7 linked regions of the Homo sapiens genome follow. The protein of the gene in region 7 interacts with the protein of the main gene of each other region in a biochemical or structural test. Each region holds a gene or a part of one and is shown on either strand. Other genes may lie near its edges.

Region 1 (3,500 bases), on a different chromosome or scaffold from region 7:
CCAGGTGGCTCTTGCGGGCAGCCCCAACCCATACCTGCTTGCTTGGCGTCCTGGGCTGAGATCCGGTCACCAGTGAGGACCATCTCCATCGCCAGCGACTTCCCAACAGCACGGGTGAGTCTCTGGGTGCCGCCCGCACCTGCAGGGAGGGGCTGGTCATGGCTGGCACTGTGATGAGTGAACCCAAGAAGACATCACAGCTGTGCAGCCAGCAAATTCCAAGGGGCTTAAGATAGGCCCTGAGACTAGGTCCAGGGGTCAGAGGCCAGGCAGCACAAGAGCCCGGGAACATCAGGGGCAGCAGCCCCTTTTCAAGCTCAGGCCCCACATCTGGTGCTCCCCTGTGGGCAAAGGATTACCTAGGTGCCGAGGCAAGAGACTGAAGGCACAAACTGTTTCGGTATAATAAAGAAAATAGTTAGAATAACAATAGTTATAATACAAATTAGATATAGAGATGATCATGGACATTATCAATCATTAGTATAAACATTATTAATCATTAGCTCTTAATATTACTCTTTGTTGTATTACTAATATAACCAAGAAATAACTGGCGGGTATAGGGTCAGGTGCTGAAGGCACATTGTGAGAAGAGACCTAGAAGGCAAGAGGTGAGCCTTCTGTCACACCTGCATAAGGGCCGCTTGAGGGCTCCTTGGTCAAGCAGTAACGCCAGTGTCTGGGAAGGCAACCATTACTTAGCAGACCATGAAAGGGAGTCTCCTTTCCTTGGAGGAGTCAGGGAACACTGCTCCACCAGCTTCTTGTGAGAGGCTGGATATTCTCCAGGCCTGCCCGCAGTCATCCGGAGGCCTAACCCCCTCCCTGTGGTGCTTCAACGATCACACTCCTTGTCCACTTTCATGCTCCTCCCGTACTCCTGGTTCCTCTTTGAAGTTCGTAGCAGATAGTGGAAGAAGAAAGAGTGAAAGTCTTAAAGTCTTTGATCTTTCTTGTAAGTGCATAGAAGAAAATGCTGACATATGCTGCCTTCCCTCTCTGCTTCGGCTACCTAAGAGGGAAGGGCCCCCTGTCCCATGATCACGTGACTTGCTTCACCTTGTCAATCACTTAGAGGATTCACCGTCCTCACCCTGCCCCCTCGTCCTGTATGCAATAAATATCAGTGCGCCCAGCCATTCGGGGCCACTACCGGTCTCCGCCTCTTGATGGTATTGGTCCCCCAGGCCCAGCTGTTTTCTCTTTATCTCTTTGTCTTGTGTCTTTATTTCTTACAATCTCTCGTCTCCGCACATGGGGAGAACACCTGCTAAGCCCCGTAGGGCTGGACACTACACTCCCCCAACACCCTGACATTAGATCAAGGTGATGACTCTGTAGGGCCCTCCCCAGCCTCTGTGGTCAACATATTAGAAGCTTATAGGCCTCCCTGACCCCAGGCACTGGTCCCTTATAGTAGCAGCTGTTCTAGGGATCAGACCCGAAACAAATGCACCGAGCTCACAGCTCCAGGCCTCAGAATCGGCCTCGTCCAACTCAGAGGGCAGCGAAGGGCACCCTGAGTGCAGCTGCTCCCCTCAGGGTCTCAGCTCCCTCCTGGCTGCTCGGCCTGGGCCCACCCTTCCTACCAGGAGAACCCTGGGGTTAGAGGGTGTTGCTTTTTGCCAAGAGCCCAGGCCCTTCTCACGGGCCTGGGTGGGGGGTCTGACTCCCCACCCTGAACCCAGGCCATGTGACCTCCATGGCCAGTGAGATGGCAGTGTGCAGAGCTCCCAGTGCCACCCAGGGTCACCATGTTCCCTCTCTGCCATGGACACGAATCACAAGCAAGAACTGTCATGGTTAGAAGCCAGCGTTACCCAGGACCAGCCTCTCCCAACACCATCAGATGTGGGCACAGTCACAGTCCCGGGACTCTAAGGCCCCCCCCAAGCTCTGTCACAACCACTCTAGCCTCCGTGGCTGTCCACAGAGGGACCACTGACCAGCCATGGGGCTGTCCATCCAGGGCCTCTGGTCAGATATGAGCTGTGGGCCCTGAGACACAGGCAGATTTTGAGTAATTACCTAAGGCATCTATGCCAGAGACAGTGTCACTCTTTACCTGGGATGGTTCCTATTAAGATCTCCGGCTGTGCAAACTGGGCCTTCTCACCGGCATAGATGATATCACACATCATGGCAAGCTCACAGCCCCCGCCAAACTGTAAAACATTCGGCATCAGGAGAGTCTTACCAGGGGAACCCAGTCAGAAATCACTCTGCTTGCTTATTCAAATTTTCCATTTAAAAGAAACAGTGTTGGGGGTATGACAAAGACTAACATGGTGGCACCAAACTAGATAATTGTTATGATAAGTTAACTACAGATGGTTGATGCTGTTTACCAGGGGCTGGCAAACATCCTGTAAAGGACCATGAGGGTCTTACAGGCTCTGCTGCCACGACTCAACTCTGCTGCTGTGGCCGAAATGCAGCCACAGAGACTAGGTGCACAGGTGGGTGTGGCTGTGCCGGGAAAACTCCATCCGCAGACCCCTGGCTTACACGGCAGGGAGTGTCATGAAATGATCACAATCCGCAGACCCCTGGTTTACACGGCAGGGAGCGTCATGAAATGATCACAATCCGCAGACCCCTGGCTTACACGGCAGGGAGCGTCATGAAATGATCACAATCCGCAGACCCCTGGCTTACACGGCAGGGAGCGTCATGAAATGATCACATTGCCTTCCCTATAGGCCAAGATCAGTCTCAGCACTTCAAATAGTCCCAGGACACAGAGCTTTCAAGGGGAGCAAAAGAAGCTAGTTTATAGATGTAGCCAAAGCCAACACCTCTCTTCCCCCACCCTGGAAGAGAGGCTTGCTGGGGAGAAGCTGTCAGGTGAACAGCCACGAAAAAAGCAGATGCCAGGAGGTGTCCTCTCCACACAGTTCCTGGCTCTTTAGCACCATGAGGCAGGAAAGGAGGCTGCTGGCCTGGGAACTAAAGGCCTCTTCAAAATAAAAATCTGTTATGCTGTGTATGCACAGCACGGTTCCTTCAACCACGAGAGGAGGAGACTCTTGGCAGCAACACTCACGGCATAGCCATTGACAGCAGCGATGACTGGCTTCTTGACCTGGGTGAGGTGGTCCCAGTGCTTCAAGAACTTGCTGGAGTAACAGTCCTGGAAACTCAGGTTCTGCATTTCCTTGATATCAGCTCCAGCTAGCAGGAGTGGAAAGGAGGTTCCAGTTACCAGAGAGCAGAGAGCCCACCCATCCTATATCTCTCAGACCAACAAGGAACTTCAGAGCACACCAGACACAGGCAGTGGGGTTGCTGGGCACGGCTGACACCAGGCCACGTGGACAGCTGTAGGGACGCTGTAATGCCAGCTAGAACAGAAGTCACGCAGAGGGGCCCTGAGGCAGGCAGCAGGTGCAAGGGAGGCGCCCACAGAGGCTAGGCATATTTGTCAGGGCATAAGCCCTTGACACACACAAAGCCTGACTGCCAAGGACCTAAACCCCTTTGAAGAAGCTGTTTTG
Region 2 (2,962 bases), on a different chromosome or scaffold from region 7:
AGACGATCAAACCATGACTGATGAATCCAGACAGGAGGGATTGACTCTGAGGACCTGAGCTACATCAATCCACTCTGTGAACATCTCAGTTACCTCATTCTGCAATAAGTTCAGTGACTGACTAAAAGTCTTGTTTTTCCAGACTTTGAATTGAATATATAAATATTATATATACATGTTTCTTGTAAATATCCCATTTTGAATGCATACCTGTGGTGGTTCTGTCCGGGCTAATCCCCATGCTAGAATGTCCTTTCCAGCTACGTGAATAAGAAGTCCCATGCCCGCATCCACCGGAAGCAGAAGCCTGGTGGATGCCTGGTTCGTTCCGCAGCACCAGGGCCTCCACCGTGCTGTGGCAGCACCCCCCATGTCGGTATTTCTAAATAACCTTATTTATACCTGCAGAGATACACTTCAGTCCCATTCAGAAGTCTTCTCTTAAAGCAGCATTACAGTCCCAGACCTGCGGGTTTCTGAGGGCAACTTGCTGGCTGACAGACTCAGTCTTGACCTCAAGGAAGGCCCATACGGCACTGCCGCATCCACCTAGAGGTGTTTGCTCTTGTCCGCTGTCTGAGTACTGTGATTCTCAGATGAGTTTGCTGCGTTTTGGGAGGACACAGACGGTTCTGTATAGGCTAGTTCAGTAACAACAAAATACACTGTTTTGTCTTCCCTCAAAGAGAGATCTTACTAGAACCTGTAAATAGAATGTATTATTTATTATAAGTCACTGCAGCTGATGAAAACAGATGGAGGCCATGCTGCAGGCTGATACTGATGGGTGGAGTTTTGTCATCAGGCCAGCCTCATCCCGAGGTCTCCTCCACCATTGGCCGTAGCCAGCAGGCTTCAGTGCTCACCGAAAGTAAAATCCCCTCCTTCAGCAAGAATAAAGCAATATACACCTTAGGTTCCACTAAGTAACATAGGCATAAGCAGGGAACGTTTCCCCCACTGTGTTCCAGTGCAGAGGAGACGAAGCCTGTCCTCACCGCGGCTCGCTGGGCCCAGGCTGGCTCTGGAAAGCCTGTGCGGTCCTGGGCAGGAAGCCCGGCCCGTGGAGCAGGTTTTCGTTCTGCTTCAGCAATAAATAAGGGTGACCACAGGGACTTTGCTTTTGGTTTCCTTTCCTGTGAAAAGGTTGGTTTTAAAGTGAGATACACTTTTCCGTAGAACAAGTGTTCTATCTTTAAAAACCCAAATTGCAGCACCGTGGATTACTGGTCTCAGAACAACTCATTGCGCATCAGATTTGACTCTCTGATTTTCTGTCTATTGGCCAAATTGCCCTTTAACTGCACCTGAATCCTTTGTGTACTGATGCCTTTGAGCTGGGCACCTTGGGAGAGTGTTGTGTTGCTGTTTACGGTTCTTCCTTGCCCTTGCTAATTACAGTCTCTGGTGCCCAGCAAGCCCCTTTGGCTTCCTTCCGTGACTGGTCACGTTGTCTGCCTGGGCTCAGCGTGGACCTGCCCCATGCTGCAGAACCTGGCCTCACCTGGACTTTTCACTAGAATTGCCAGCTTCCTCAACTTAGCAGATCATTCACTCATGCGGGCACAAGCAAAGATCAACACTTTCTTTTTTGGTAAGCTTGAGTTTTACAAGTTATTTTTTGGTGATGCGTAAGACATTGCAGTGGGAAACCATTCAACTTGAGTTTATTGGAGTTTGCTGTTGTAGCAGGTTTTAACTCAGGAACAACTCTTGTCTGATCTCTCCGCCCCTCTGCCGGGAGGCGACATTAACTGTCCTCTCGGAGCCGGTAGCGTTGCTGTCCGAGTCCCCAGGACGGATCTCCTGCAGACCTGCCTTAATGCTCAGATCGAAGTATTTCACAAGAATACTTGTGTTTTTAACAGCCCTTCCCCTGGACGGTGCGGCCATGAGGGCCTCATGTTACGGCATTGCCTTTTCTTTCTGTGGATCCAGTATCTTCCTCGGCTTTTTAGGGAGCAGGAAAAATGCGTCTGAGAGCAACTCTTTTTAAAAACCTGCCCTGTTGTATATAACTGTGTCTGTTTCACCGTGTGACCTCCCAAGGGGGTGGGAACTTGATATAAACGTTTAAAGGGGCCACGATTTGCCCGAGGGTTACTCCTTTGCTCTCACCTTGTATGGATGAGGAGATGAAGCCATTTCTTATCCTGTAGATGTGAAGCACTTTCAGTTTTCAGCGATGTTGGAATGTAGCATCAGAAGCTCGTTCCTTCACACTCAGTGGCGTCTGTGCTTGTCCACATGCGCTGGGCGTCTGGGACCTTGAATGCCTGCCCTGGTTGTGTGGACTCCTTAATGCCAATCATTTCTTCACTTCTCTGGGACACCCAGGGCGCCTGTTGACAAGTGTGGAGAAACTCCTAATTTAAATGTCACAGACAATGTCCTAGTGTTGACTACTACAATGTTGATGCTACACTGTTGTAATTATTAAACTGATTATTTTTCTTATGTCACAGAATGTGTCGCTTCGTCTTCTTTGATGTGTTTTCTGTGTGCTTGTTAGCTTTACAGTTTCTTTGGGCTGTTTTAGATTTGAAAATTCTGTCTGTCTTTGATACTGAAGATAACATGTTTCCTTTAAAGTCTAGAGTTTGAGAAAATTTGAAGATTTTTTTTTAAAAGACAAGGAAAGAACACTGGAAGTCTTAGGAACAAAAGCTGAAGTAACAGGTCACGCTGGTAGGCACAGCCCCCAGGTCCTCACCCATGCCTGGAGGAATGACCTGCATTCTGGAAGGCGCTCAGGACACCGTTTTGTGGGATCAAGTAAGCGAAACTTTCTTGAAGATATCTGTGGGGTCCCTTTTAGGAGCTGTCATAAGACAAAAGGAAATTGCTCGTGTGTGTCCCTGTGTGGCGGTGGTGCAAACGAGGGTGTCTTCCGGAAGGGTGGCCGGGAGGACCAAGCGGGGTCTCCTGTCCATGGTCCGTGTACCTGGCTCAGGTGTGTCTA
Region 3 (3,098 bases), on a different chromosome or scaffold from region 7:
GAGAGCTTCCAAATCTTTTATAATATATATCCCAGCATCCAGATACAAATGGTAATATTCACGGCACACACAGAAGCAAACAGTAGGCTACTTCTGGCCCTGAGGTATCTTGAAGGGTTGAGGGGGATCAATATCTTGGCTCATCTGTACTGTGACAGATTTGGAAGATCTAGTCTAACCCATTTTTTCCCTCCCCTCCCCCTACCACCTTCAGAGAAGCTGCTGCTGGCTTGGACTGCGGTGGGGCTGCCCCTCCAGGATGTGTCTGTGGCTGCCTGCAATTTCTGTCGCCGTCCTGTACACTTTGAGCTCATGAGTGAGTGGGAACGTTCCTACTTCGGGAACATGGGGCCCCAGTATGTCACCACCTATGCCTGAGAAGCCAGCTGCCTAGGATTCACACCCCACCTGCGCTTCACTTGGGTCCAGGCCTACTCCTGTCTTCTGCTTTGTTGTGTGCCTCTAGCTGAATTGAGCCTAAAAATAAAGCACAAACCACAGCATGTGAAGCCTTTTATTGGACAGGGAACAGACAAGTGCATTCTGACTCCCTCAGACAAGTGGCAGATCTATGAGGTAACCATAGGTCACTTGTTGGTCACCATTCCATTTTACCAACAGGGAAACAGAATGAGAAAGAGGAAGGAAATGCCCAAAAACTACACAGTGAGTTGCAAAGAGCTAGGATACTTGGCAGATTTATTTGAGATGGCTCTTCTCCAATGGTTTCAATAAAAATCCAGGGATTGACGCTTCACTGGTAATCCGGGCCCTGGAAATCTGGGCCCAGGGTAGCCCCTGAAGCCAGGAAATGAGTCAGCCCTAACCAAATTCCCTAGAAAGGAGTGGTTCCCCAAAACCAAAGAGGTATTTTCCATAAGGGGATATGGATGTCTTCCTCAATCCATTATCCTCTCTCCCTCCCACGGCATCCCACAGAACAGGATTTACCAGTCCCATTCTTTTTCTTTTCTTTTTTTTTTTTTGGAGACTGAATTTCACTCTTGTTGCCCAGGCTGGAGTGCAATGCATGATCTCAGCCCACTGCAACCTCCGCCTCCCAGGTACAAGCTATTCTCCTGTCTCAGCCTCCTAAGTAGCTTGGATTACAGGCACGCGCCACCACGCCCAGTTAATTTTTTTGTATTTAGTAGAGACGGGGTCTCACCATGTTAGGCTGGTTGCGAACTCCTGACCTCAGGTGATCCACCCATCTCAGCCTCCCAAAGTGCTGGGATTACAGGCGTGCACCACTGTGCCTGGTCTACCAGTCCCATTTTCAAAGGTGAGAAGAGGCTTGGCTAGAGCAAGCACTGTGTTCAAAGCAATGCTCCCACTTTCCAGGTCACAGTATACAGGAAACATTTCCATGGCACACTTAGGGGTACTAATGATACTACTTGCTAAGGAGGCAATCGTCCCTGAAACTTGTGTGGTCCCAGGCCCTGCCTGGCAACTCTGAGGGCTGAGGACCGTTTCTTTCAACCCTGTAACCCACTGTGGCAGCTGTGGGACGCACTAGCTGGAAAGCTCTGGTTTAAGGCTACACAGCCCACCTTCCTTGCTGATTTCACCTTAGCCGTACAGGAAATTCCTACAACTGAGCAGAGAACCCTTTATGGTGAGCACTGCTGCTCACGCCTCACTATTCCCTCCTCCCCCCTCCCTCCTCCCCTTTCTCTGGGAATTACATCATTGGGCTACAGCCAGCCGGCAAACCAAGTATTGAGATAGCTTCTCTGACTCAACTTTATGGAGTACCTCCACAATGTCCAAAGTGCAACCCTGAAACAAATACACAGACTTTATTTATGCACAAATACACTTTCCAGCAAAGACAGAAGTGATTTAAAATCACACAACTTCCTGGGGCAGCTAGTGTCCGTGTACTTCGGACAGGAAGGTGGAAAGTGGTGTAAGGGGCTGGGTCACAGGATTAAGGCACAAGAAGCTCACCAACAAGGAGCTAGGTAGGAAGGAAAGCGAGGAAGAGAGGGCTTAAAAGAGGAAGAGAAGGGTAGGAGACTTTGAGGGAGAAGCAGGAGGCAGCTCAGGGAAGGGGAGCTGGCCTCAGATCATGTGCAGGGGTGACCATGCCAGATGTCCCCAGGCCTCCATTGGTTCAGCTGGGCCTGCTCCAGAGGAAGAAGTTGCACCGGGAGGAGGGGTCAGTGGGAGGACCCCGGGGCCTGGCACACATGTAGAAGCGGCGGCCCAAGTTGGGTCCTGGCTTCTTCACAGTACGCATCACACATGGCTCCCTGTGGCCCCCACAGAGGGGTGTGCGCAAGGGCCCCGCCAGCACAGACTTCCAGAATGAGGTCCGTAACTCCTTCTCATCTTTGGCTTCTGAAGTCTTGGCCTGCCCCTTCACCACTTTGGCCACTGCCTTCTCTTCTGGAGTCTTCGGGGTCATGAGGGCGCTCATCAGTGGTAGGCTAGGCAGCTCTATGTCAGGAGAGGCTTGGGGACAGCTAGGGGAGGGCTGAAAGTAGCTCTTCAGGTTTTTCTGGCCTCTGCTAGAGCCAACCTGACTGGGCTGAGGCCTGGTTGAGCGCACTTGGGCTTTGTTTTGGCATGTCTGTACCCGGGTTTGATTGTTGTGCTGCAGCGTCGACTGCTCCAACACAGGACTTTGTTCGAGAGGAACTAGGAAGCGAAGGATCTTGAGCTGGGTGCCTGCAAACTCAGGGAGGAAGCGGGTGCACAGAGGTGGGCACTGTTTTGCAGGCACAGAGGACACACTCAAGACTGCACCCACAGGGCAGTGGTCAGAGCCCATCACCTCAGGCAGCAGGAAAGAGGCCTGAAAGGTGTCTATGACCAGGGTCCTGTCCCCCAGCACATAGTCAAGCCGGGAGCCATAGTTGAGATGGCGGGCGCCAGTGACTGCTGACCAGCAGGTGAAGGCCCCCTCCTGCTTTGGTTGGAAGCAGCGGTAGCTATCGATGAAGGGCCCTACATGAGAGGCAGACTGGCACCCCAAGTTACTGAGCAAGCTGTCCATCCACTTGCGCCCTGGGTCCTCTTCAAAGCATTCCTAGGTGAGGAGGAAAGGGGGTTGGAAGAGAGAGAGACAGAACTAGATACCTAGAACT
Region 4 (3,500 bases), on a different chromosome or scaffold from region 7:
CGCTCTTGTCACCCAGGCTGAAGTGCAGTGGCTCAATCTCGGCTCACTGCAACCTCCGCCTCCCAGGTTCAAGTGTTTCTCCTGCCTCAGTTTTTCAAGTAGCTGGGATTATAGGCGCACGCCACCGCACCTGGCTGATTTTTGTATTTTTAGTAGAGACGGGGTTTCACCATGTTGGCCAGGCTGGTCTCGAACTCCTGACCTCAGGTGATCTGCCTGCCTTAGCCTTCCAGTGTGCTGGAATTACAGGCATGAGCCACCATCCCTGGCCGTGCCTTTCTTTTTAAATGAGGGGGTTTGGACTCTACAGTCTCTCTGAGTCCTTTTAATTCTGACATTTGAGATGGCTGTCAGGCGGTAGTTTCTTTTACTGCTGGTTCTTTGAGAGCTGGTAGATGTGTGCACTCATATTTTGGGTGCCCGTGTGTGCTCATGTGTGATTCTGGGGACTTAGCCTCTAGCAAACTACCGTGTCCCAGCCCAGCCTGCCCCTGGGAGCCCAGGAGCTAACCTCCCTGACCTGTGAATGTGGTCCTTTTCCAGATCGATTGAAATACGAATCCCAGAAATCTAAATCCAGCAGCGTGGCTGTCGGAAACGACTTTGGCTTTTCCTCTCCTGTCCCAGGTAACTTTGCCTTCTGGGGAAGAAAACCTAGAGGCATAGTGGGGAGCTCACACCCAACTTTGCTTTGCATATTTGGAGTTTGAGAGGAGGGTGAAAAAACAGATTGTGGGAGGGGGCCTGGGCCTCCTCAGCAGGCTGGCGGGGCTGCTTCTGCCCCCATCTCCATATCCAGTCCATTTAGCAGCTCTGGGGTCTTTCCAATCCAGCCACTGCTGGGCTTCAGAGCCCACAGTTGTGTTCAAGTAACATAGGCTGGCTGAACTCTCAACCTATGCCTCGAGTGTAGGCTAGTCAATGACACATGGCCAGGTGCGGTGGCTCACGCCTATAATCCCAACACTTTGAGAGGCCGAGGAGAGTGGATTGCTTCAGCCCAAGAGTTCAAGACCAGCCTGGGCAACAAAATGAGACCCCCCTATCTCTACCAAAAAAGTACTAAAAATTAGCTGGGCATATTGGCCTGTGCTTCTAGTCCCAGCTACTCAGGAGGCTGAGGTGGGAGGATCACTTGAGCCCAGGAGGTTGAGGCTGCAGTGAGCTGTGATTATGCCACTGCACTCCAGCTTGAGTGACAGAGTGAGACCCTGTCTCCAAAAAAAAAAAAAAGAAGAAAAGGACCCCAAAATGCCCCGTGGTGGGGCTCAGAGACTCATAAGTCTTGGTCTGTGTCCTGGGGAAGCTTATGGTCTTGTAAGGAGAAATGCCCAGAAAACAGGTAGAACAAACTAGCAAAGCTGAGGACTTACTGATTTTAGCAAATGCATGGGAAAAAAGGAGGGCAGGATTAATCTGGGGAGTTTACTCATTCATTCATGACATAGCTGGAGAATATCTGCCATCTGTTGGGCCTTGCCCTAGGTGTTGGAGGAAGAGGAATTTCTAGCTTTGTGTACAAGGTGGTGGGAAGTAAGAATTGCCTGTAAAGAGGGCCAGGCCCTTCTGCTCAGAAGCTCTGATGGCTGAAAGAGGGTTGGATAGGGGTGAGGGGGCTGCAGTGCTCCTGGGATGCGCAGACTACTGGGTTGAGCCACAGCTGGGAACGATGACCTGGTGCCTGTGTGCGAACAGTGGCCCCTCATCAGTCAGTGCCCCCTGCCCCACATGTACACAAGCTGCCCACCTCGGAGAAGGGCTCTTGCCTGGAATAGACCTTGCATCATGCAGTGGAGTTGGGGGTGGAGGAGCAGAGGGATGGGGAGCTGAGCTGATCCCAGCTTGAAGGGAGAAAATCCTGTGGAACTGACTCATAAGCAGCAGGCTGGGAGCTTAGGGCTCAGCAGATGTGCAGCTGGGAGTTTTAAGCAGGAGCCTCTTGTCCTTGATCCTGAATTAACTAGAGATACCGGGGCTGCTGAGATGGATCAGAATGACTCAAAGGGGACTTAGCAGGCAAGGTGACTGGGGATTAACCAAGTTGCAGGACAGAGAGCAGGGGCTTCAGAAACCAGCAAAAAACCCAAGTGGATGCTGAGCGAGCCCGGGAGACTCTGGGTGGCCGGTGGGGTTCTGACTCCAGGACTAGTCCCATTCTATTCCTACTCATTGTCTAATAGCCAGAAACCCTGTGGCTGGGAGGGAGCAATGGATGGGCTTACCTGGCAGGAAGGACAAGGGACTTGCTACAGGTGAATGCCGGCTCTGAGCCAGCACCTCATTTGACTGTCACATGAATGTCGGGGTGCAGGAGGCCCCTGGTGTGCTGGTGAATGTTTCACAGCCAACTCTGGGTGCAGCGGGAGCCTGATATGTAGTGCTTGGTGACCTCCATGGTGGAAATACTCCCAAGCTACCAAGGTGATGTCATGAAACATGGAGTTGGTCAGAGGCGTGGACAGTTGGGAGCACACACGAGCTGGCTGTCTGCACACACAGTAGACCGCTGAACCCTCCCCATTTTTACAGAGGAGGAAACAAAGTCCACAAGGGGAAAGAGGAGCTCCTGGAACTCCACATCCTCCTTGCTTTAAACTCCCTTCTGGCCAGGGAAGAAGCCTGCTCTTTCTTTGCATTTGTCCTCAGATGGGTGGGTAGGGCTGGGACAGCGGCCATGGCTGGCCACGGTGGCCGGCCTTCAGCAGGTGTCTCCTTCCAGGAACTGGCGACGCCAACCCCGCTGTGTCTGAAGATGCCTTATTCAGGGACAAGCTGAAACACATGGGAAAGTGTGAGTCCCACTCAGGCCCCGCTTCCCTCCCCAGCTTTTCTGAGACAGGCCCTGTGGCCTCCCAGGAGTGAGGGAGCCCCTCAGCACATGTAATGCAGCTGACTCTTGGTGAACCAGTGACATTTTCATCGCAGGCTGGCTCCCTCAGCCTTCCTGCCTCACTTCCCTCTACAGCTGAGTCTAGATACAAATTAAGTTTTAAATCCTCTTGAGCCAGATGTCTGCAGAAAAATAACGTGCCACACATGCCCTCACCGCAATCCTCATGTTCACGTTCTCTGTGGCTCGAGGAGGCTTGGCCGGAGCTGACTGCACAGAGAGGCCCTTGCTAAGCCTCTGTGGGGGTGGGGGACCTCTTTCCACAAAGTCCTACCAGCCTTGAATGCCCCCTTCCCTCCCCCTCACCTCCCCGCCACACAGACCCACAGCCATGTGTGAATGAGGCTGCGATCCTTTCAGGCTCCATTTCAAGGAAAATCTCGGATTAGTCATGGAAATCCCAGAACCAACTTTGGAGGTGGCTAGGGGAGGGGCGGGAAGGCGGTGGCGGCGGGAAAGCGAGCCAAGATGCGTTGCAGTGTGTTGCAGCTGGGGAGGGAATACTTGGATCTTGAGCCGCCTGCGGTCCCTGGGCCTGGCTCAGGGTGTCCTGTGCTGCCCCTGCAGGCTGACCCAGGATGTAGCCTCTTGCTCCTGGGGTGGCGTCCTC
Region 5 (3,500 bases), on a different chromosome or scaffold from region 7:
CTGTCTCTACTAAAAATACAAAATTAGTTGGGCATGGTGGCGCATGCCTGTAATCCCAGCTACCCAGGAGGCTGAGGCAGGAGAATCTCTTGAACCTGGGAGGCAGCTGTGGTGAGCCAAGATTGTGCCATTGCACTCCAGCCTGGGCAACAAGAGGGAAACTCTGTCTCAAAAAAAAAAACAACAATAAAAACAAAACAAGCAAGCAGTCTCTGCCCACAGAACTCAACCTAGTGAACCAGATGATTTCTGAGTTTCCTTCCTGCTCTAAAATGTGGAGAAGAGAAAGTAGATTATAAGGGAAAAAAGTACTGCATAACAAAACAACTGTAGTATGGAACTAGTGTTTTCCCTTATAAATTCATTTTAAATAAGGTATTAGAAAATAGCATTTTTCTTGGTATCTCTAAGCTTTAAAAGGCTGGAAACTTAAATGTCGTTTTTTGGGCTGGGCATGGTAACTCACGCCTGTAATCCCAGCACTTTGGGAAGCCGAGGCAGGTGGATCACAAGATCAGGAGTTCGAAACCAGCCTAGCCAACATGATGAAACCGTGTCTCTACTAAAAATACAAAAATCAGATGGGTGTGGTGGTGCACGCCTGTAATCCCAGCTACTTGGGAGGCTGAGGCAGGAGAATTGCTTGAATCTGGGAGGTGAAAGTTGCAGTGAGCAGGGATCATGCCATTGCACTCCAGCTCTGGGCAACAGAGCAAGACTCCCTCTCGGGAGGTGGGGGGGGAAATGTCGTTTTTTTGTAATGCCAGTTCATTTACAAAATACATTTGCTTGTAATTCAAGTTCATGTATTAAGTTCTGATTGTTGTTCAGAGAGAAACAACATTAAATCTGTTAAAACTTAGAGCAGCCATTCCTAAGAATGTATATAACCTAGAATTGTGCCAGGCATGGTGGCTTATGCCTGTAATCCCAGCACTTTGGGAGGCTGAGGCGGCGGATCATGAGGTCAGGAGATCGAGACCATCCTGGCTAACGTGGTGAAACCCCGTCTCTACTAAAAATACAAAAAATTAGCCAGACGTGGTGGCGGGCACCTGTAGTCCCAGCTACTCGGGAGGTTTGAGGCAGGAGAATGGCATGAACCCAGGAGGAGGAGCTTGCAGTGAGCCAAGATCGCGCCACTGCACTCCAGCCTGGGCGACAGAGCGAGACTCCGTCTCAAAAAAAAACAAAAAACTAGAATTGTGCTTGGGTAGTCTAGAAATTAAGTTTATTTTGATTGATTGATTGATTGATTGAGATGGGGTCTTACTATGTTGGCCAGGCTGGTCTCCAACTCCTGGGCCCAAGTGATCCTCCCATTTCAGCCTCTCATAGTGCTGGGATTACAGATGTGAGCCACTGTGCCTGGCTGAAATTAAGTTTTTATTAGCATAATTAGCATTAGAGAAACAAGATACTGACCAAAGTGACCAGTAGAAGTTATTTTTTTACTGAGTTGACTAGTTTAAAAAAATGACCTTTACAATAATGTCTGGAGTCTGCATTTTGTTAGGTGCCTTATAATTAGAGAAAGGTATTGTCGGGGATAGGGAAGTTGGGTGTGGACTAAAATTTAAGGAAAACAGGATTGTTTTTCTTTCTGTATTAAGAACAAAAACTTCATGTGGTTAAAATTTTAAGCAGTATCCTGTCTGCCTTAGTTTTAACCTAGCATAGAATCATAGCTTGTTCTTAAATCAACAGTTTAGTGTCAAGGGTTTCTTACTATTTTTCTCTGCTGAAATCAACTAAGCACTTTGCAGTGAGCCTGAAGGTGTGTATAGTGGAGAGAATTTTGGCAGCTTTTATCTTGGGACCTCAGTTCCTGGCATGTGGTTATCCATCTTTATGTGAATTGTCTTCTGAAGGAGATAGAAAATGACCAGGGCAGAAATCTTGGAGAAAATTTAGAACCTTTGTTTTAGGGCCAGGCATGGTAGCTCACACCTGTAATCTCAGCACCTTGGGAGGCAGAGTTGGGAGGGTAGCTTGAGCCCAGGAGTTTTAGACCAGCCGGGGCAACAAAGTGAAACCCTGTCTCTATTAAAAAATTATTTTTAAAAATTAAAAGAACCTCTGTTTTAAATTATTCTTGATTTACACTGATGATGCTTTTGAGTACTTTAGAGAGTCATTAGCCACAGTGCTTTTTTTTTTTTTTTTTTTTTGCATTTGATAACTTCTTTGGCTTCTTACTTGATGCTAGTTTATTCACAGCCCTGGTGCAGGTCCAGGTACATGCCAGAAGTAGTAATATCTGCAATATGAAGTGATTTGAGCAGCCATTATCACCTTTGACCTATTTATAGAGTTTATATCAGTGGAGAAAAAGTTGGCTGGCAAGCAAGCAAAGCTGATCTCTGGTGGTTGCAATCTCACAATTTATATTTAAGTTCCGGGTAGGCCAAATTCAGTGCATTATGGACAGATCCATTCAGCTGTATTAATATTAGAGTTCCCTTTCTGTACTCTAACTTTTTAGCACTCCAGTTTCCCAGTCAGCTTCACTGTTGAAGGAAAGAAAACCGAAAAACTTACCACACTAAAAAAAAAAAGGAAGAGTTCCTTAATGTAATATGATAGTCAGTGTTCAGATTTCCCTCTTATCTCATAAATGTGTCAGATCAAGAGCCAAATAAGGTCTCTGCATTGTTTTGTAATCTGTAGGTTCCCCCTCCATTTCTTTTCCCTAGCAGATTATTAGTTACAAAAGAAGTTTTCCCAGTGTGGATTTAGCAGTTACATTCCTTTGGATTTCTGTGGTGGTGGTGGTAAACGTTTTTCTCTGACCCCTGGGTTTCTAGTTAATTGGTATTAGATTTAGAAGCTTGATCAGATTGTTTCTATAATATATATTCTTTCTCTTGCTTCTTTTGCAGGGGATGAGGGGAATACTTTATAGATGGTACTTGGATCAGTAGGTGCATAATATTTGGTTCCCTGTGATGTTAGTAGCTGTTGGTGATCGTTGCCCAGTTGTGTTAATTTGTTACTCATAATTCCTTACTCTGAATGGGGCATCCTCTCTCATCAGTCCTAGTTTGAGTCTTTTATGCTTGTTTATAGCTTCTTCAAACTTTTCTTTCTTTTGAGGATTAAGGGAAGGGATGAGTTGCTGTGGAGAAAAGGGCTCTTTCTACTATATTGTATTTCTGTAAGTGTTTTTTATTTTAGTCCTAATCTTTGGTTCTTGCATTGTCTGCATTGTCTATGCTGCAGCTTCTTGGTGGGAAAACTGACTCAAAATCCCAGCAAATAATTGAAAGAAGTCCTTCAAAACCAAATTTTTAAAAAAATTTTTTTCTGAGTTAGAGTCTTGCTCTGTCGCCCAGGCTGGAGTGCAGTGGCGCGATCTCAGCTCACTGCAACCTCCGTCTCCCGGGTTCAAGCGATTCTCCTGCCTCAGCCTCCTGAGTAGCTAGGATTACAGGTGTGTGCCACCATGCCTGGCTAATTTTTGTATTTTATTTTTGAGACGGAGCCTCACAGTGTCACCC
Region 6 (2,172 bases), on a different chromosome or scaffold from region 7:
CTGGGCCTCCCAAAGTGCTAGGATTACAACTGTAAGCCACCGCACCCAGCTGCCTCTATCTTCTTAAGGAGTAGAAATCAGACAAGATCTGAGGGGCCAGGGATCTGTCTTGACAATCCAGATGTTTTCACTCCCACCCCGGAATTCTTCCCATTATCCAAGCTTTCTTCTCAGCCCTGAAAAATGAACTTTGGCTGGCTACTTGTAGAGCTCTTTAGATAAAGGAATTTTTAAAGTAATATCTTATGATTGTTTTTGAAACAGGTTCTTCAAGCCCCTGTAATCTCTCTCAGCATGGGGGAGTAGATGTCTTTTTCTAATCTATTTCTCTTTATATCCTGCACATTACTTCAAAAGGTTTGCTTTTTTATTCTATTATGCATCCAAAACCCAACAAATCCTAGGGCCATCTTTTGCAATTTACTTCAAAGAATAGATTTGAAAAGTCACACACCTCTCTCTTTGCCCAAAAGAAGCTGAGAACAATGAAGCTTTTGGTCTCAGGTGAATCTTTTATTATTTCCAACTGAGACAAACATTTTTCCAAAGACAGTAGCACAGTCATTGTCATAAGCATGTTAATATGTCTATTTTGCAGAAAAGAATATGCTACAAGTCATGCAATTCACATTTTCAATAGCATTCTGACAGAAATTAAAGACAATTCCAATTGTGTCAAACATTTAATGAATAGTAAGTTCTACTTTCTGCCCTTGGGTAGATAAATGGTGTCTTTCAGTGAAGTGGTGAAAAACAGATCATGTGATGGCTGCTTCTTAACAGTGCCCACCGCTCCAATGACAGTCAGCCCCTTTGGCTGAATTTCTCAGCTATCTTCTGTAGTTCCAAATCCATTGCAGCCAAGTTTTCGAGTTCTTTTTTCTGGAAAATACAGAAAAGTGGAGGCATGAGGTCCCGAACCAATTTCTTTTGCTGTAGTTTGATGGAGCATGAGTGCAAAGGGGAATTTTAGGCATGTTAGAAGCTGCATTAGTCAACCTACCTCAGTAACTCTCAAAGTGTGGTCCCCTGACCAGTGGCATCAGCCAGGAACTTGTCAGAAATGCAGATATTGGGGTCTCACTTGGGACCTACTAAATGAGGAACTCTGGGGGCTAGGAATCCCTCATGATCCTAATGTACATTCAACTTTGAGAAGCACCAACCTACATAATCAATATTAGGAAAAAAAACATTGTTTGGGTAGGTTCAGCTCCAGTAGTGTTACCTCTCCCAGATACAAATTTCTGATGGCAGTAGGGCATGAAATAATAAAGATAGCAAACTAAATAGGCAAGCAAGTAAACTTCTCTATCACCTATTCTCCCTGCCTCAGGGAGAGAGTGATGAACAATAAGAGGACCAAGGGGAAGATACCAGAACAGCAGTTGTTAACGTTGGCTGAACGCTGCAATCATCTGGAAGCTTTAAAATATTCTGATGATCAGGCAGCACCCTAGGAACTAAGTAGACAGAATCTCTAACACAGTAATTTTTCACGCTCTCCAGGTGACCCCAGTGTGCAGACAAGGTTGAGAAGCAATGCAACCGAGTGAGGTGGACAAGGATGTGGACGATGGCTAGAGGTAGGTGGAAACCGACCCCCAAGGTGGCCTCCACTCCATTACTAGAGCACCATTTTCATAGTGATTAATTCCCACCAATTTCTCCCCGTGAATATCGGATAGTCTTGAACATAATGTGCTAACATTGACCAGAGTAAGTACTTTTAAACAGAAGCCCTAGACCATACCTCGTCCTCTGTCAGGACTGTCTGGTCAGCCCTGTCCTTTTCATTTTCTGCCTCCTGGTGGGTGCTCACCGGCTCCTCAGAATCATAGAAGTCTGGAAACTCAGCTGACTTCTTCCTGTAGTGAAGGAGCTGGTCCAGTTGGGCCACCCTGTCATATTGCCTTTTCAGGTCCAGCTTGGGGACCCTGGCGAGGTTTCTCTTCTCATACCCCCAGTTCACATCCTCAGAGAAGGGCTTTTTCTCCCACCAGTCATAGTTGTATTCTGGGAAGAAATTCTTCTCGTTCAAGGTCAGCTCATTTTCCTCCTCACCCTCGAGAAAATTGTCATTCATGTTGTCTCTTCTTTCAAAATGGCTGCTCTTCCACTGGAGAGGGTCGTAGTATGGGTTGAACAGTTCCCCTAATCTCTTCCTCTTTT
Region 7 (3,500 bases):
GGGACTATTATGTGTCTCATTTAAAAAGTTAAAAGCACTACTTATTTTCCAATAAATATTCAAATTCAAATATTCAGATTCACTATTTTCACCCAACTCCATATTCAAAATATCATGAAGCCTTATATACATCGAGAGCAAACCCATTTTTATATATGATGTAAATTTATAAATTATCTTAGACATGTTGATATATTAAAATATAGAGATATAATAAAGATGTTAGTTTGTGTATATAAATTAAGAATTCATTTGAATATTTAAATTATTGATTGCTACTGTTTTTAAAAGAGAAATTAATGATATATTAAAAAGTAGTGGGCCGGTGGCCGTTGCTCACGCCTGTAATCTCAGCACTTTGGGACGCCGAGGCGGGGGGATCATGAGGTCAATAGATCAAGACCATCCTGGCCAACATGATGAAACCCTGTCTCTACTAAAAATACAAAAATTAGCTGGGCGTGGTGGCGTACTCCTGCAGTCCCAGCTACTCGAGAGGCTGAGGCAGGAGAATCACTTGAACCCGGGACACAGAGGTTACAGTGAGCCGAGATCACGCCACTGCACGCCAGCCTGGCAACAGAGAAAGACTCTGTCTAAAAAAAAAAAAAAAAAAAAAAAAAAAAAGTGAATTTAGCATATCAATAATGTTTAGTTAGTTCAAGATAAGATTTTAATCCCTATGTTATTAATCCCAAAATATAATCTCTAGTCTATTCCTGCAAAGCATTGTTTGGCTTTACATTATTGGAAGAAGACTGAGCTGGCCACATCTAGAGTTTTGTATGTATTCAAGAAACGTTGCATAATCTCCATTTGGCAATTGGAGGACCTGAATGAAGCCAGTCTTCGATTCTCTGCCAGCCTTCCTCCTAATCACCCTGCCCCTACCTCTCCCTATACCATTCCCACAATTCCTGACTTTATTACCACGGAAGAAATTTTTCTTCAGTACTGGTAAGTCTTTGGAGGGAAAAGGCCTTGAAAAAAGAGAAATCTGTTTTACAATCAATTTTTGCTGGGAGTGATCTAATACACTCCACTGGAGACAGCAGTGTGTCTATCTTCTTCACAACTGCATGGTTTCTGACCCAGAGGACAGGCTTCAAAAACATTCAATGAATAGAAGATGAATGACTGGATGAACAAAGTGAGTGAATGAGTAAGTGAGTGAGTGAATGAAATTTCCTACATAAACTTTTATGTAATTTAATTTGAACAGTTGGTTTGTACAGGAATATGACTAGATGAGTTTCCCAAACACTCCCTGAGGTTATAGACTGGCTCATCTTTGGACTTCCTGGAAATTATCACCCAAACCAAGGGACATTTAAAGTTACAATTCCTAATTACTGGTATATTTTGAGTAATTCCTCATCAAATGCTGTATACTTTAGAACTGATACATAGAATTACAGAGATTAGATTGAAGACGAGAACTCCAATTAATTGTAAATATGCTCTTTCCAAAACACACCCTTTATGTACTGAAAACAAGAAGAGCAACACATTTGTCAAAGAGGGGAAAATGTATAAGCACAGACATGTTCACTTATGGACAAACACATAGCTCTAATTTGTCTAAATTTATAGCACTACTTGACACTGATCAGCAATACAAACACCTGAAAATTTTTCATAAATTAAATTTTCATAAACCATATACCATTGGAAGCCAAAAAATATTCACAATTTCCTTTTCTGTGATAAAGAAAAGTCATATTAGGTATAAAAAAGATTTAAAGTTAATGACAAAAGGTTTGTTTGTTTGTTTGTTTTTGAGACAGAGTGTCGCTCTGTCACCCAGGCTGGAGTGCAGTGGTGCAATCTCGGCTCACTGCAACCTCCGCTCACTGCAACCTCCGCCTCCCAGGTTCAAGTGATTCTCCTTCCTCAGCCTCCTCAGTAGCTTAGAAGATATTTTTTAACTGTCAAGAAACAAAGCTATCCAAAATGTATTTTCCTGGAAACACATTCTTCTTGAGAAAATATTTTCTTAATTAATGATGGCTAAGGAAGTAGTCTCATCTAAGAAGCCATTATGCTGCAAACTGCAAAAACATAGCTGGTAAAATTACTATCAAGATTTGGCTACAGATGTGCTGAAAGTTAATTTCCTCTTTCTTAACTCTTTCTGAAAGCCATAGTTTAAACTTACTGTATATATAGGAATATATATATAAATGTACTATTTAAAGACAGTAGAACATCAACTTTCAAATTACTACTTACAGAACTAACTTTTCTCAGTTCCCATTTTTTTAAGAACTAGTGGTTTGTATCGATTCTATTATTAAAAGCCAAAATCTCTTCATGGTTTGAATTCAAAAGTACTCATCAAAAATCTACAACTTAACCAGTTTTATAATTATATGATTATATTATTAAAATAATAACTTCTGACATGTTACCTTAAATGTTTGCTTTCTAAATCAAACTTCTGAGTTTAAAGCTCTCTATAAATGTAAATCATTGACTCAAGGAAAAATATCTGTATTTTAAAGAATTCCACAGGAGTAGCCTTGGATTGCAAACACAGTGTATCAAGGGAAGGTTGTCATGTGTACAAATAAATACTCAAGGCCATTTGTTTTACATATCTATCATACTTACTGGTGAACACCAAGGACTTCCCAATCATTTCCAACATCCTGGGGTCCCATTAAGCTTTGCATTGTACCTGGACAGACTTCTATTAATTTGCACAGAAGTGACCAACCCACCTGAAAACAAGAAAGACATATATTCACATGTTTTAAAGAATGTTAATAGAGCATACTCAGTCAAACATGAATCTCTTCAATCTTAGTGGAATAGATGCTTATCTCACTTGTAAACAATGGTTATACAACAAAATGATACCCTAAAATGCTTACCCAGAAACAAAAGCAAGCCGTATTCTTAGGATACACCTTTCTCCAAAAATCATACCAGAAAGACATACAAAAAATACAACATTTCAGCCGGCAGTTTGAGACCAATGTGGCCAAGATGGTGAAACCCAGTCTCTACTAAAAATACAAAAATTAGCCAGGCATGGTGATGGGCGCCTGTAATCTCAGCTACTCGGGAGGCTGAGGAAGGAGAATCGCTTGAACCCAGGAGGCAGAGGGTGCAGTGAGCCAAGATTGTGCCACTGCACTCTAGCCTGGATGACAGAGCAAGAATCCATTTCAAATATATATATATTATATATATATATAATTTAATTTATACATAATATATAATATATATAATTTATATATATAAATACATATAATTTCTAAATTATGAAGAACATAGACATGCCAATTGTCTAAATAAGGCAAAATAAAATAAACTATAAAAAATAGTTTTAGAGGTTGTACCAAGATTATTAAGTGCAAGAATGGCTATACCAGATCCTTAGTACTTTTTTTTTCTTGTTTTTTTTTTTTTTTTGGTTTTGTTTTTGTTTTTGAGATAGGGTCTCACTCTGTCACCCAGGCTGGAGTGCAATGGTGCAATCATAGATCACTGCA

The links.
Region 1: the proteins of LRRK2 (region 7) and ECHS1 interact on a protein array, tested with the Homo sapiens proteins (2 studies listed by BioGRID and IntAct, with this or other methods).
Region 2: of the proteins of LRRK2 (region 7) and ARHGEF7, one has a biochemical effect on the other in vitro, tested with the Homo sapiens proteins (2 studies listed by BioGRID and IntAct).
Region 3: the proteins of LRRK2 (region 7) and APEX2 form a complex in vitro, tested with the Homo sapiens proteins (one large-scale study listed by BioGRID and IntAct).
Region 4: the proteins of LRRK2 (region 7) and CUEDC1 form a complex in vitro, tested with the Homo sapiens proteins (2 studies listed by BioGRID and IntAct, with this or other methods).
Region 5: the proteins of LRRK2 (region 7) and ARK2N form a complex in vitro, tested with the Homo sapiens proteins (one large-scale study listed by BioGRID and IntAct).
Region 6: the proteins of LRRK2 (region 7) and CHGB interact on a protein array, tested with the Homo sapiens proteins (3 studies listed by BioGRID and IntAct, with this or other methods).

What each region holds. Positions count from the first base shown.
Region 1 is NC_000010.11:133,366,855-133,370,354, forward strand, and holds part of ECHS1 (enoyl-CoA hydratase, mitochondrial), read right to left. Parts: intron 3,178-3,500; coding exon 3,050-3,177; intron 2,169-3,049; coding exon 2,069-2,168; intron 140-2,068; coding exon 35-139; intron 1-34. UniProt on the Homo sapiens protein: Converts unsaturated trans-2-enoyl-CoA species ((2E)-enoyl-CoA) to the corresponding (3S)-3hydroxyacyl-CoA species through addition of a water molecule to the double bond.
Region 2 is NC_000013.11:111,303,271-111,306,232, forward strand, and holds the end of ARHGEF7 (rho guanine nucleotide exchange factor 7), read left to right. Parts: 3' UTR 1-2,462; downstream 2,463-2,962. UniProt on the Homo sapiens protein: Acts as a RAC1 guanine nucleotide exchange factor (GEF) and can induce membrane ruffling. Functions in cell migration, attachment and cell spreading. Promotes targeting of RAC1 to focal adhesions. May function as a positive regulator of apoptosis.
Region 3 is NC_000023.11:55,006,460-55,009,557, reverse strand, and holds the end of APEX2 (DNA-(apurinic or apyrimidinic site) endonuclease 2), read right to left. Parts: intron 3,041-3,098; coding exon 2,123-3,040; 3' UTR 501-2,122; downstream 1-500. Other genes in the region: ALAS2 (5-aminolevulinate synthase, erythroid-specific, mitochondrial isoform a precursor), read left to right, coding at 215-378. UniProt on the Homo sapiens protein: Functions as a weak apurinic/apyrimidinic (AP) endodeoxyribonuclease in the DNA base excision repair (BER) pathway of DNA lesions induced by oxidative and alkylating agents.
Region 4 is NC_000017.11:57,868,413-57,871,912, reverse strand, and holds part of CUEDC1 (CUE domain-containing protein 1), read left to right. Parts: intron 1-543; coding exon 544-627; intron 628-2,719; coding exon 2,720-2,791; intron 2,792-3,500.
Region 5 is NC_000018.10:46,180,534-46,184,033, forward strand, and holds part of ARK2N (protein ARK2N), read left to right. Parts: intron 1-3,500. UniProt on the Homo sapiens protein: AMPK substrate important for exercise capacity and skeletal muscle function.
Region 6 is NC_000020.11:5,923,682-5,925,853, reverse strand, and holds the end of CHGB (secretogranin-1 precursor), read right to left. Parts: coding exon 1,754-2,172; intron 883-1,753; coding exon 805-882; 3' UTR 501-804; downstream 1-500. UniProt on the Homo sapiens protein: Secretogranin-1 is a neuroendocrine secretory granule protein, which may be the precursor for other biologically active peptides.
Region 7 is NC_000012.12:40,231,497-40,234,996, reverse strand, and holds part of LRRK2 (leucine-rich repeat serine/threonine-protein kinase 2), read right to left. Parts: intron 2,724-3,500; coding exon 2,614-2,723; intron 1-2,613. UniProt on the Homo sapiens protein: Serine/threonine-protein kinase which phosphorylates a broad range of proteins involved in multiple processes such as neuronal plasticity, innate immunity, autophagy, and vesicle trafficking.